Regions from separate parts of the Homo sapiens genome. Here regions 2, 3 and 4 are each linked to region 1. Evidence: fine-mapped expression QTL. A gene starts in region 1. Each other region holds a variant in brackets. All regions are shown on one strand. Distances are between the middles of the regions.

Evidence for each region.
Region 2: its variant is fine-mapped to the expression of TOMM70 in subcutaneous fat (TwinsUK, PIP 0.95).
Region 3: its variant is fine-mapped to the expression of TOMM70 in monocytes after LPS (Quach 2016, PIP 0.95).
Region 4: its variant is fine-mapped to the expression of TOMM70 in thyroid (GTEx, PIP 0.95).

What each region holds. Positions count from the first base shown.
Region 1 is chr3:100,399,703-100,402,388 of GRCh38, forward strand. It overlaps TOMM70 (translocase of outer mitochondrial membrane 70), which reads right to left and starts at 1,387. Exons shown (of 12, transcript NM_014820.5): 1 at 924-1,387. The coding sequence starts at 1,247. It overlaps LNP1 (leukemia NUP98 fusion partner 1), which reads left to right and starts at 1,837. Exons shown (of 4, transcript NM_001085451.2): 1 at 1,837-2,686. RefSeq lists enhancers at 1-724, 1,406-1,515, 1,566-1,615, 1,626-1,715 and silencers at 1,086-1,165, 1,776-1,855.
Region 2 is chr3:100,477,834-100,480,519 of GRCh38, forward strand. No RefSeq gene overlaps it. Among named protein-coding and RNA genes, the nearest start is that of TMEM45A, 13 kb to the right of the region's middle. The variant G/A (reference allele first, on the strand shown) is at 1,286.
Region 3 is chr3:99,936,770-99,939,455 of GRCh38, forward strand. All of the region lies in intron 1 of CMSS1 (cms1 ribosomal small subunit homolog), which reads left to right. The region is part of intron 1 of FILIP1L (filamin A interacting protein 1 like); the gene reads right to left. The region is part of intron 1 of LOC105374010 (a long non-coding RNA gene); the gene reads left to right. Among named protein-coding and RNA genes, the nearest start is that of MIR3921, 26 kb to the right of the region's middle. The variant TGC/T (reference allele first, on the strand shown) is at 1,305.
Region 4 is chr3:100,364,258-100,366,943 of GRCh38, forward strand. It overlaps TOMM70 (translocase of outer mitochondrial membrane 70), which reads right to left. Exons shown (of 12, transcript NM_014820.5): 12 at 1-1,460. The coding sequence ends at 1,307. Among named protein-coding and RNA genes, the nearest start is that of NIT2, 31 kb to the left of the region's middle. The variant C/G (reference allele first, on the strand shown) is at 1,102.

The sequences.
Region 1 (2,686 bases):
TTCCAATCAAAAAGTTTAAGAAGTCACTCCCATTTTTTTTTTTTTTTTTTTTGTATGTGTGTGTAGGCCTGGACCTGGGGCAGGGGGCTGTGTGCAACCAAGCCTGGTGAGCATTGCTGTGGCCGCTACTCTTGTGCAGCAAGAGGGGACAGTGCAGTGCAGAGCGTTTTCTGACAAAGGCCAAGGGGTCCGGAGTGCAAAAGGACACCTTGGGGCTGGGGCATGGCAGGAGAGGTTACGGGCGCTGAGTGCTTGCAGCCAAGGGGGCTTCGGGGTTGCTGAGAGAGGACGAGCCTTGGGAGCTTGACAGTTCTGCTTACAGTTCAGAGGCTGTAAAACAAATGCCACTGAACACCATTTCACTCTTTAGAACCTGTGTAGTCTTTCTTTTTCTATGTAGAAAGCCATCTAATCGTTTTTGTTTTTGTTTTGCTTTTGTCAACTAACCGTCACTGTAGTTGCCCACTTACCCCCAGCAAAAACACACTCCAAAAGGGGGAGTGGCTCATTATTAAAAGGCTCTTAGCGATTAGGTTGTAGGCTTTGGAAATCACAGAAACAGTTCGTATCACGATGTACCAATTGTTAATCGAATTTAGCTTCCTTCACTTATTAAATACAATCATCACATTTGCAAATGCCCCACTCCCATCTACAACACTAGGGATAAATGCTGTGTCACTGAGAAGAAAAGCAAAGGATTTTTCTGAAACCAAAAGCAAACTGTCAAAGAATGCCAGTAACCTGTCATCGAGCTACTCTATGCCCTCCACTGGCAGCCAGAAATGAGTCTCCCTAAACCCAAGTGTTGTGCTGCCGCTTGGCAGCTTCCGTCTGATGGGAAGCCCCCTCACTGACACAACCCGCCAAGGAAAAGCTGCACGAGCCAGTTTCCTCCTCTACGGCCTGGGGCTGCTTCTCACCATGTCCAAGTGAGCACCGGGACCTTCAGGGTGTCCGCTGCCCGGGGCCGGACTGGCCCTGCCCTCCGGGGTCTTCCGTTCGCTGTTGCGCTTCAGGCCGCTGGCGTCGCCCCGGCCTCTGGCCTCCCGGCGCCGTTGCTGCCGACTCCACAGGTATATGGCACCCGCGCCCAGCAGCAGGGGTGCCCCGACCGCCAGAGCCAGCTGCCATCGCGGCAGCCCCCCCGTGCCCGGGCCCGCAGTCCCGCCGCCGCCCACCCCACTCCCGGAGCTCGGTACAGCGGCTGCGACCACCGCTGCCTCCACAGGTTTAGAGGCGGCCATGACAAGTGTCCTCTGCCACCGCCTCCCTGTCTGTCGCGAGCGCCACAATCACCAAACAGCGTGCGAAGGAAGACCGAGGGAGGGAAGGAAAGCAATGAGCGAGCGAGCACGCTAGGCAGAGAGAGCGGACGACAGAAAAGGGCCAGAGGTCACCGGAAGCCCAGGGCATGCCGGGCCAGACCTGGCCGTCCTTCTCCTCCAGTATCAACCGAAGAGGGAGAGGAGGGGCGGAAATCACTTCCGGGTTAAGGGAAAGCGTGGGTGTGAGTAGGAGTCTTCGGAAACCCTTTTTCTTTCTTTTCGCCCCGCTGCTGTTCGGGAGATGGACTTCTGGAGTCCCCGTCGTAGCTGGTGTTGTCCCCTCTACCTTCAGGAAAGAAGGGCAGATGGCCCTCTTGCCTACTGAAGCCGAGGAGGGGCGCGTATACAGCGGGCTAAGGGCGCTCAAGAGATCCGAGTGGAAGAAAAAGCAGCGGCACAGCACTGGAATGGGCGGGAGTGGCAGAAGAGTTGTGAAGGCTATTGGCTAGCAAGGGTGGTGGGCGGGGCGTAGACCGAGCTACCCAGTTTACTGGTCGATTTCGGATCCAGTTTTCCAGTTATAGCCACGTTGGCACCTCTTGAACCTCTGTGGCCGTTAGCACGGTTTTCTGCCCGCGTGCCCGAGAAACCAACGGATTAGAAGGACTTTTAAAGATGTGTGAGGAAAGAGCTCACCGCTGAAGAAGGCTGCTGCATCACTGAACTTCTTATCACTAACATAGCGAGATTTTAGTTTGGACGAATTTGAGGTTATAGGGGAGATAGCGATGGCAGAAGACTAGGTGGAAATGGCACATCTAGGTTGGCTGCAGTCGAAACGGTTTGAGCGTGGTCGCTGTGGCTCATCGTCGGCACCAATTAACGAAGCGATGACATCTGCGTTGTTAGGGGTTTCTTAAACTGAGTTGGTAGAAATGCGAAGCGTCAGGGTTCCCGCCGGCTTCGAGCCTTTCTTGGCGTATTTGTATCTTGAGCTGATTTCTGCGTCAGCCCACATCTCGCTCTGATCCGCACGCCCCCCGGGTTGTTTTGCAGTAGCAGTCTCAGCCCTCTTCTCGTCTCATTCCCAAATCGTAATTTCAGTTCACAGCTTTTTATCTATAATAGCTTTATCAACTCTTTTTCCGATGCTCTGCACCAGATCTCTTAAAATATAAAATTACCTTGCAAGGTATTGTTTGGAATACACGGTATTTTCATGAAGACAACTATTAATAGAAAAATCAGAGTCCAGAACTATGGTTCTCCATTTCTGGTATACTGGTTTGCAGAAGCCTTACATTAAGATTTCATAAATGATTGTTTTGCTGTTAAGTGCAACAACATCACAGTAGAGCTACATAAAGATTGAAAGGAGATATTTTATCAAGTGGCACCAGAATGGACTGATTAAAATA
Region 2 (2,686 bases), 78 kb after region 1:
GGACGGGGCGGCTGGCGGGTGGGGGGGCTGACCCCCCCACCTCCCTCCCGGATGGGGCGGCTGGCCGGGTCGGGGGCTGACCCCCCACCTCCCTCCCGGACGGGGAGGCTCGCCGGGTGGGGGGCTGACTCCCCCACCTCCCTCCCAGACTGGGCGGCTGGCCGGGCAGAGGGGCTCCTCACTTCCCAGTAGGGGCGGCCGGGCAGAGGCACCCCTCACCTCCCAGACGGGGTGGCTGGCCGGGTGGGGGCTGACCCCCACCTCCCTTCCGGACGGGGTGGCTGCCAGGCGGAGGGGCTCCTCACTTCTCAGACGGGGCGGTTGCCAGGTGGAGGGTCTCCTCACTTCTCAGACGGGGCGGCCGGGCAGAGACGCTCCTCACCTCCCAGACCGGGCGGTGGGGCAGAGGCGCTCCCCACATCTCAGACGATGGGCGGCCGGGCAGAGACGCTCCTCACTTCCTAGATGGGATGGCGGCCAGGCAGAGATGCTCCTCACTTTCCAGACTGGGCAGCCAGGCCGAGGGGCTCCTCACATCCCAGACGATGGGTGGCCAGGCAGAGACGCTCCTCACTTCCTAGATGGGATGGTGGCCGGGAAGAGGCGCTCCTCACTTCCTAGGTGGGATGGCGGCCAGGCAGAGATGCTCCTCACTTTCCAGACTGGGCAGCCAGGCCGAGGGGCTCCTCACATCCCAGACGATGGGCGGCCAGGCAGAGACGCTCCTCACTTCCCAGACGGGGTAGCGGCCGGGCAGAGGCTGCAATCTTGGCACTTTGGGGGGCCAAGGCAGGTGGCTGGGAGGTGGAGGTTGTAGCCGAGATCACGCCACTGCACTCCAGCCTGGGCACCATTGAGCACTGAGTTAACGAGACTCTGTCTGCAATCCCGGCACCTCGGGAGGCCGAGGCTGGCGGATCATTCGCAGTTAGGAGCTGGAGACCAGCCTGGCCAACACAGCGAAACCCCGTCTCCACCAAAAAAATACGAAAACCAGTCAGGCGTGGCGGCGCGTGCCTGCAATCGCAGGCACTCTGCAGGCTGAGGCCGGAGAATCAGGCAGGGAGGTTGCAGTGAGCCGAGACGGCAGCAGCACCGTCCAGCTTCGGCTCGGCATGAGAGGGAGACCGTGGAAAGAGAGGGAGAGGGAGAGGGGGGAGAGGGAGAGGGAGAGGGAGAGGGAGAGGGAGAGGGAGAGCGAGAGCGAGAGCGTATCTTTGTAGTGCTCTCTGTATTTCCTAAATTTGAATGTTGGCCTACCTTGCTAGGTTGGGGAAGTTCTCCC[G/A]GATAATATCCTGAGGAGTGTTTTCCAACTTGGTTCCATTCTCCCCGTCACTTTCAGGTACACCAACCAAACATAGATTTGGTCTTTTTACATAATCCCATATTTCTCAGAGGCTTTGTTTGTTTCTTTTTACTCTTTTTTCTCTAATCTTGTCTTCTCACTTTGTTGCATTAATTTCATCTTCAATCACTGCTATCCTTTCTCCCACATGATCAAATTGGCTATTGAAGCTTGTGCATGCATCACAAAGTTCTCGTGGCATGTTTTTCAGCTCCATCAGGTCATTTAAGTTCTTCTCTACACTGTGTGTTCTAGTTAGCCATTCGTCTAACCTTTTATCAAGGTTTTTAGCTTCCTTGCAATGGGTTAGAACATGCTCCTTTAACTTGGAGAAATTTGTTGTTACTGACCTTCTGAAGCCTACTTCTGTCAACTTGTCAAATTCATTCTCCATCCAGCTTTGTTCCATTGCTGGTGGGGAGCTGCGATCCTTTGGAGGATAAGAGGTGCTCTGGTTTTTAGAATTTTCAGCTTTTCTGCTCTGGTTTCTCCCCATCTTTGTGGTTTTAATCTACCTTTGGTCTTTGATGTTGTCGACCTACAGATGGGGTTTTGGTGTGGCTGTCCTTTTTGTTGATTTTGATGCTATTCCTTTCTGTTTGTTAGTTTTCCTTCTAATTGTCAGATCCCTCAGCTGCAGGTTAGTTGGAGTTTGCTGGAGGTCCACTCCAGACCCTGTTTGCCTGGGTATCACCAGCAGAAGCTGCAGAACAGCAAATACTGTAAAACAGCAAATATTGCTGCCTGATCCTTCCTCTGGAAGCTTCATCCTAGAGACACACCCACCTTTATGAGGTGTCTGTCAGCCCCTACTGGGAGGTATCTCCCAGTCAGGCTACACAGGGGTCAGGGACCCACTTGAGGAGGCAGTCTGTCAGTTCTCAGAGCTCAAACGCCATGCTGGGAGAACAACTGCTCTCTTCAGAGCTGTCAGACAGGGATGGTTAAATATGCAGAAGTTGTCTGCTGCCTTTTGTTCAGCTATGCCCTGCCCACAGAGGAGGAGTCTAGAGAAGAGGTGGTAGGCCTTGCTGAGCTGCGGTGGGCTCCACCCAGTTCGCACTTACCGGCCACTTTGCTTACCTAGTCAAGCCTCAGCAATGGCAGACACCCCTGGCCAGGCTGCAGCGTCGCAGGTCAATCTCAGACTGGTTTGCTAGCAGTAAGCAAGGCTCTGTGGGTGTGGGACCTGCTAAGCCAGGCACTGGAGGGAATCTCCTGGTTTGCAGGTTGCTAAGACCATGGGAAAAGTGCAGTATTTGGATGACAGTGTACCATTCCTCCAGATACAGTCTGTCACAGCTTCCCTTGGCTAGGAAAGGGAAATCCCCCAACCTCTTG
Region 3 (2,686 bases), 460 kb before region 1:
CTACTAAATCACTATGCTGTATCTACTTAGCTTTTATAAAAAGATATACATAGTAAAGGAAAAATCCTGGTTTAACATTAATTTATTCAACAAACATTTATGAAATGAAGCCCTACTATGTCAAGTATTGTGCTACGCAATTTTGTTTTAACTAGCTTATTTTCTTTTCTTTCTTTTCTTTTTTTGAGACGGAGTTTTGCTCTTGTTACTCAGGCTGGAGTGCAGTGGCGTGATCTCGGGTCACTGCAACCTCTGCCTCCAGAGTTCAAGCAATTTTCCTGCCTCAGCCTCCCAAGTAGCTGGGATTACAGGCGCCTGCCATCATGTGGCTAATTTTTTTGTATTTTTAGTAGAGATGGAGTTTCACCATGTTGGCCAGGCTGGTCTCGAACTCCTGACCACAGGTGATCCACCCGCCTCAGCCTCCCAAAGTGCTGGGATTACAGGTATGAGCCACCATGCCCAGCCTAGCTTATTTTCATATGTGGACCAATCTCCAATTTGTTGAATTCTGAGTATCCAAAATTATACAAAAATGTGAGTAACATAAATTCACAAACCCCTAGCCTTTGAGTCTATTCAATAAAGATGTTCTGTTTTCATATATTGTTTATGTGCAAAAACTATGTATTTTTAAATTTTCATGTGCTTTTCTCAACCACTGCTGTCATATTGAAGTGGCAGGAGACATGTCTTAATAGAAAGAGTATGAGATTGTGGAATCAAATAGAACTGGTCTTAAATCACAGCTCCAACATGTTAGCTCTGTGGCCTTGGGCGTCAGTGAGCCTTTAAATGTAAAATGGAGATAATGGTACTTGCTAATGGGTTTATTATTCATATTTGGTTAGCACAGGGCCCCTGTTGTTAATGTGTGTATCCCCATGTCCTACAGAGTTGGACCTCAGCAGGGATTTATTGAGTGATTGAATCATGCAGTCCTCAGCAGAGCTGGTTGGCTCTGAATAGGAGCTGCCTCATGGTAAAGATGATTCATTTGCAAACCACTGGCTAGAAATTAGAAAAAGGGTACTGAGAATCTACTGAAGTAGCTGTGTATAGACCTCTTACCACATGCCAGGCACTGTTTTAAGTGCTTCAGTTCATTTATCTTATTTATCTTAAAGAATTTTAGCCTGAAGTAAATGAAAAAAACAGAAAACCTGTAGGAAGGGAGTTGGTAAAGGTGAATTAAGGTGGAGACTCTCATAAGAGATAGCAAAGACAAATAAATTAATATCAATTTCAGGGCAGCACTGGTGCCTGCAAAAGGCTCAGGAAGTGTGTGTGTGTGTGTGTGTGTG[TGC/T]GCGCGCGCGCGCGCGTGCATGCACACTCGTGCTGGGTGGGGAAGAAATGTTAGATCCACGTAACTTACTGGAAATCTCCATTTAATTTCACTGAATTTTGTAAACTTTCGATCATAAATACCCTGATCTGCTATCCCTCACCCCCAGCCCTCTCACAGACACCCTCACATGCATGAAATGAACTGAGTATGCACTACACTATTTTTTAATTTGACAGCACCATTAACCATCATTAGTTCTGTTTTTAAGCATGTAACATTTTATTAAGGCAGTCATTTAAACTTAGTGTAGTGGGAAATTTTAGACATAAATTGTTTGTTTTGATGGCAAGAAGACTGCATAACACGGAGTGAGTCTGTGCTAACTGTACGACACTCATGGCCAAGGAACAAAGCTGGGAGTGATCCAAGGCTTTAAATTTGAATATATTTAACACCCCATACTTTGCTGAGTTTAGAGGGCAGACTGTCTGCTATCTTTACATTTGCACTTGCATTTCCCCCTATCTTTACACAGAACCTTTAAGCTAAGATTTAGTTCCCTGAAAGAATGGAAAGAGATGTATTAAGATTATGGGGTTCTCAGCAGAGCTGGTTGGCCCCTTTAATATTAACTGACTTATGGTAAATGTGATTCATCTATGAAAATAGTGGCTATAAATAGATGTTAATAGCGCTCAGTTGCAGAACAGCCAGGTTGTGCTCACATGGCCAGATTAGGGGAAAAAATCCTGTTGGGTATTTTATGTGGTCTTTCAAAAAAAAAAAGTTTCCTTTTATTGCCCTACTCACCCACATTTGAAGACACTAAACTCAGCCAGCTGCAGTAAAGCTATCTGATGGCTAAAAAAAGACAATTGAAAACAAGATAACCTAATTTAGTAATTGGCCTCCGTTATCTTTTTTCTCCCATTTTCAGTAAAAATCATTGAAACATTTTCTTAGTGATATTTTTCCTTGTAGGGCATAGACAAGTCTTTAGACAAGGGATTGGAAAGTGGGGATGTATGATTCAGGTTCATATTCCCAAGGATTCTAAGTCCTAAGAGAAAGTCAAAGCCACAGAGAGAAAATCAAATAAGAGCTTCAGAAGGTGGTGCAGTAGTCTCTCATCCATCACCCATAGTATCAGGCACTTAGTATTTTCCATCATCACCTGCTCACTTGTTATATGCCTGTGAGTGTCCAAAAGTGCTTCCTTGTTGTGAGCTGAAATCCAGCTCCCAGGAACTTTAGTTCGTGTATCCTGGTTCTGCCTCCAGAACTAAAGCAAGCCAAGCTACTCTTCTTGCCACAGTGTAGTCCTTTAACCGAAAGGACTCTATTCTTCTTTATTCCAAATGAAACACTCAGTTTCTTTATTCATTTCTTACACCACCT
Region 4 (2,686 bases), 35 kb before region 1:
TAGTCCTTAGAGATCAAGGTTAGCTCACTACAAAAAGCACTCTACATGTCCTCAGCATCTTCAAAAATAAGTGGCTCAAAATTCCTTAAGCACATGTAGCCATAGTTAAAGCACTAAACTTGTTATTTCAGGAAATACTATGCTCTGGCTCCAAGTCTTACATCCTTTTTGACCCTTTAGCCACATGTCCTTCACGAGAAATTTTAAGCTATTTTAATACTCCCATATATCACACTTACTCTACCTTTATTTGGGTTTTACATACAAGCAATCTGCACTTTGATTTTAAAAAAGTTCTAAAATTTTTTAAAGGATGGGGTCTTGCTATATTGCCCAGGCTGGAGTGCAGTGGCTATTCGCAGGTGCAATCATCATGGCACATTACAGCCTCGAGCTCCTGGTCTCAAGCCTCTTGCCTCAGCCTCCCTAGTAGCTGAGACTATAAATAGTATATACAGTGCCACTGTACCCTCTATCCTACATTTTTAAAAGCTCACCATTAAATAGTACTAATTATTATAGAAAATAGTCACAGACAATTATAAACACACTACTGTTTCATCTTACCTCTTTGTCTGGTCCACTCCCCCATCAATACTCAGTCTTCCAACACATATATCAATTAGAATATTTTGCATCTGCATAATTTACTGCAAGAAAATCTGCTGTTGTGGACTTTAAGAAGAATGTACACTATCCATTAGAGTGGAAAGGGGCCAAGAGGATTAATAAGTGCCACCAAGTTTCTAAAACTGCAGAATCAGAGGCATTGTGCATGCTGACAATGGTTTAAAGGGTCTCTCAATTTTACTTTAATCCCCCATTTAACCTTTGTTTCTTTCAAAAAATCAACTGAAAGCGGTTAACTGAATATAAATCTATTTTACAGCATTTACTACGTTAATTTAAAAATCAACATGCTGTAAAATACTTACATTATTCACACATATATAGACGGAATCATCCAGAACATAATCAACTGCCAACCCCCCTTAAAAAAAAAATCAACAAATCAGTTTTTATTTGCATGGCCAATTATCATTTGTACTCTTTGCAACTTTATTTAAAAATCCCTTTAACATGTTCTAATCTTTTGTTGCA[C/G]AGGGAATAAAAGCTGCAAGACTGCAAACTTCCTTCAACAGCCACACCCACAACACCTAGACATGAAACAGATGTAACAAATAACAACACCACAAACAGAAATACTGATTTCCACCATTCAACACAGTTCATGACAGTGTCTTTAGGGTTCAGTTGAAGAGGGGGTAAACTTTTAAAAAGAGGGTCAGTCTGCTTTCCCCCTGTTTTATAATGTTGGTGGTTTTAATCCGTATTTCTTTGCAACTTCTGTCTGGGCATGGGCGGCATCGCAAAGTGAATACAGATGGGCCATCTCCATTTCCGATTTGGCCAGGTTAATAGCTTTGTTGAACATGTCAATGGCTTTCTCCATGTTTCCTCTAAAAGAACAAAATTTTTAAGTCTCAGATTCAACAAGCACTTCACAATATTCAATGAAGGTTGTAAGTGATGGTACATGAAGTCTGACCACTAAGTTTCTTCACAATATTCAATGAAGGTTGTAAGTGATGCTACATGAAGTCTGACCACTAAGTTTCTACTATGATTCTAGTAAAATGCTTCTTTTAAAATAAACAAGAGTACCTACCACATTGAAAGCACTCAATGAATGTCAACTACTATTACAAATACTATGTGCTTACATTATATCCCTTGTATTCTGTGTTTACTGATAAGAACAGTCAGACTAGGGAAATTGATTGGCTTATTTAAAATCACAATTCCGTCTGGTTCCTAAATTTTACATGTTTCTACTGTTAACATGAGACTCCTTTAGAAAGCAGTGACATAATACCGGGACACTAATGACATGCAAGGGCCTTACCTTCACAGACTGATGTGGGCCCACCTCTTTCTGTTTCATCTCTTACCAGCACATCCCCAACCCCATGCATCTCTACTCTTCAGGCAGTCTATGTGAGTTCCTCACACCTACTCAATAAATACTCAGATTTATTGCCTCTGCCTGATTCTGGTCAAATCCACAGCTATCTAAGAACCAACTGTTTTAAGTAACTAGTATTAGCTACATATATATGCAATCCTACAAAGAATATTAAGTCCCTACTATATATATATATACCTGCATATACAGAGTCTAACTGGCATACATGTTAGTAAGGTACATTTTATTGGCATATGTGCCAGTTAGACTTTATATGCCAGTAAGAGGTACCACTAGGGTGACTATATTTAATCCCCCATTATAATATATGGCAACGTGATAGGCTTATTTTTAAAAAAAACTTTTTTCAAGAGTTCATGTTCTGGCATTAGGCCAACAGCTAGCAGATCTGCAAAATCCTAGGATAATCTGCAATTTCATTTATTCAAATTCACTTATTTAATTGTAAGGTTCAGAATGGATTTTTTCAAAGTTCAATTAACGTGAACAAAATTCCATCAAACCCTATCAGAGGTCTTTAGTTAACCCAGGATCTATGAAAGCCTTGAATTAAAAGCAAAGTGTTTTTGTGTGCATTATTCTAAGAAGAATCCACAGCTTCGCTCAAAAAAGATTAAGAACTACCACCCTATCCTATTCTAGTACAAGAATATTTTATTCACATTAACAAATTAGCAATTAAGAAATAATTTAGGCTGG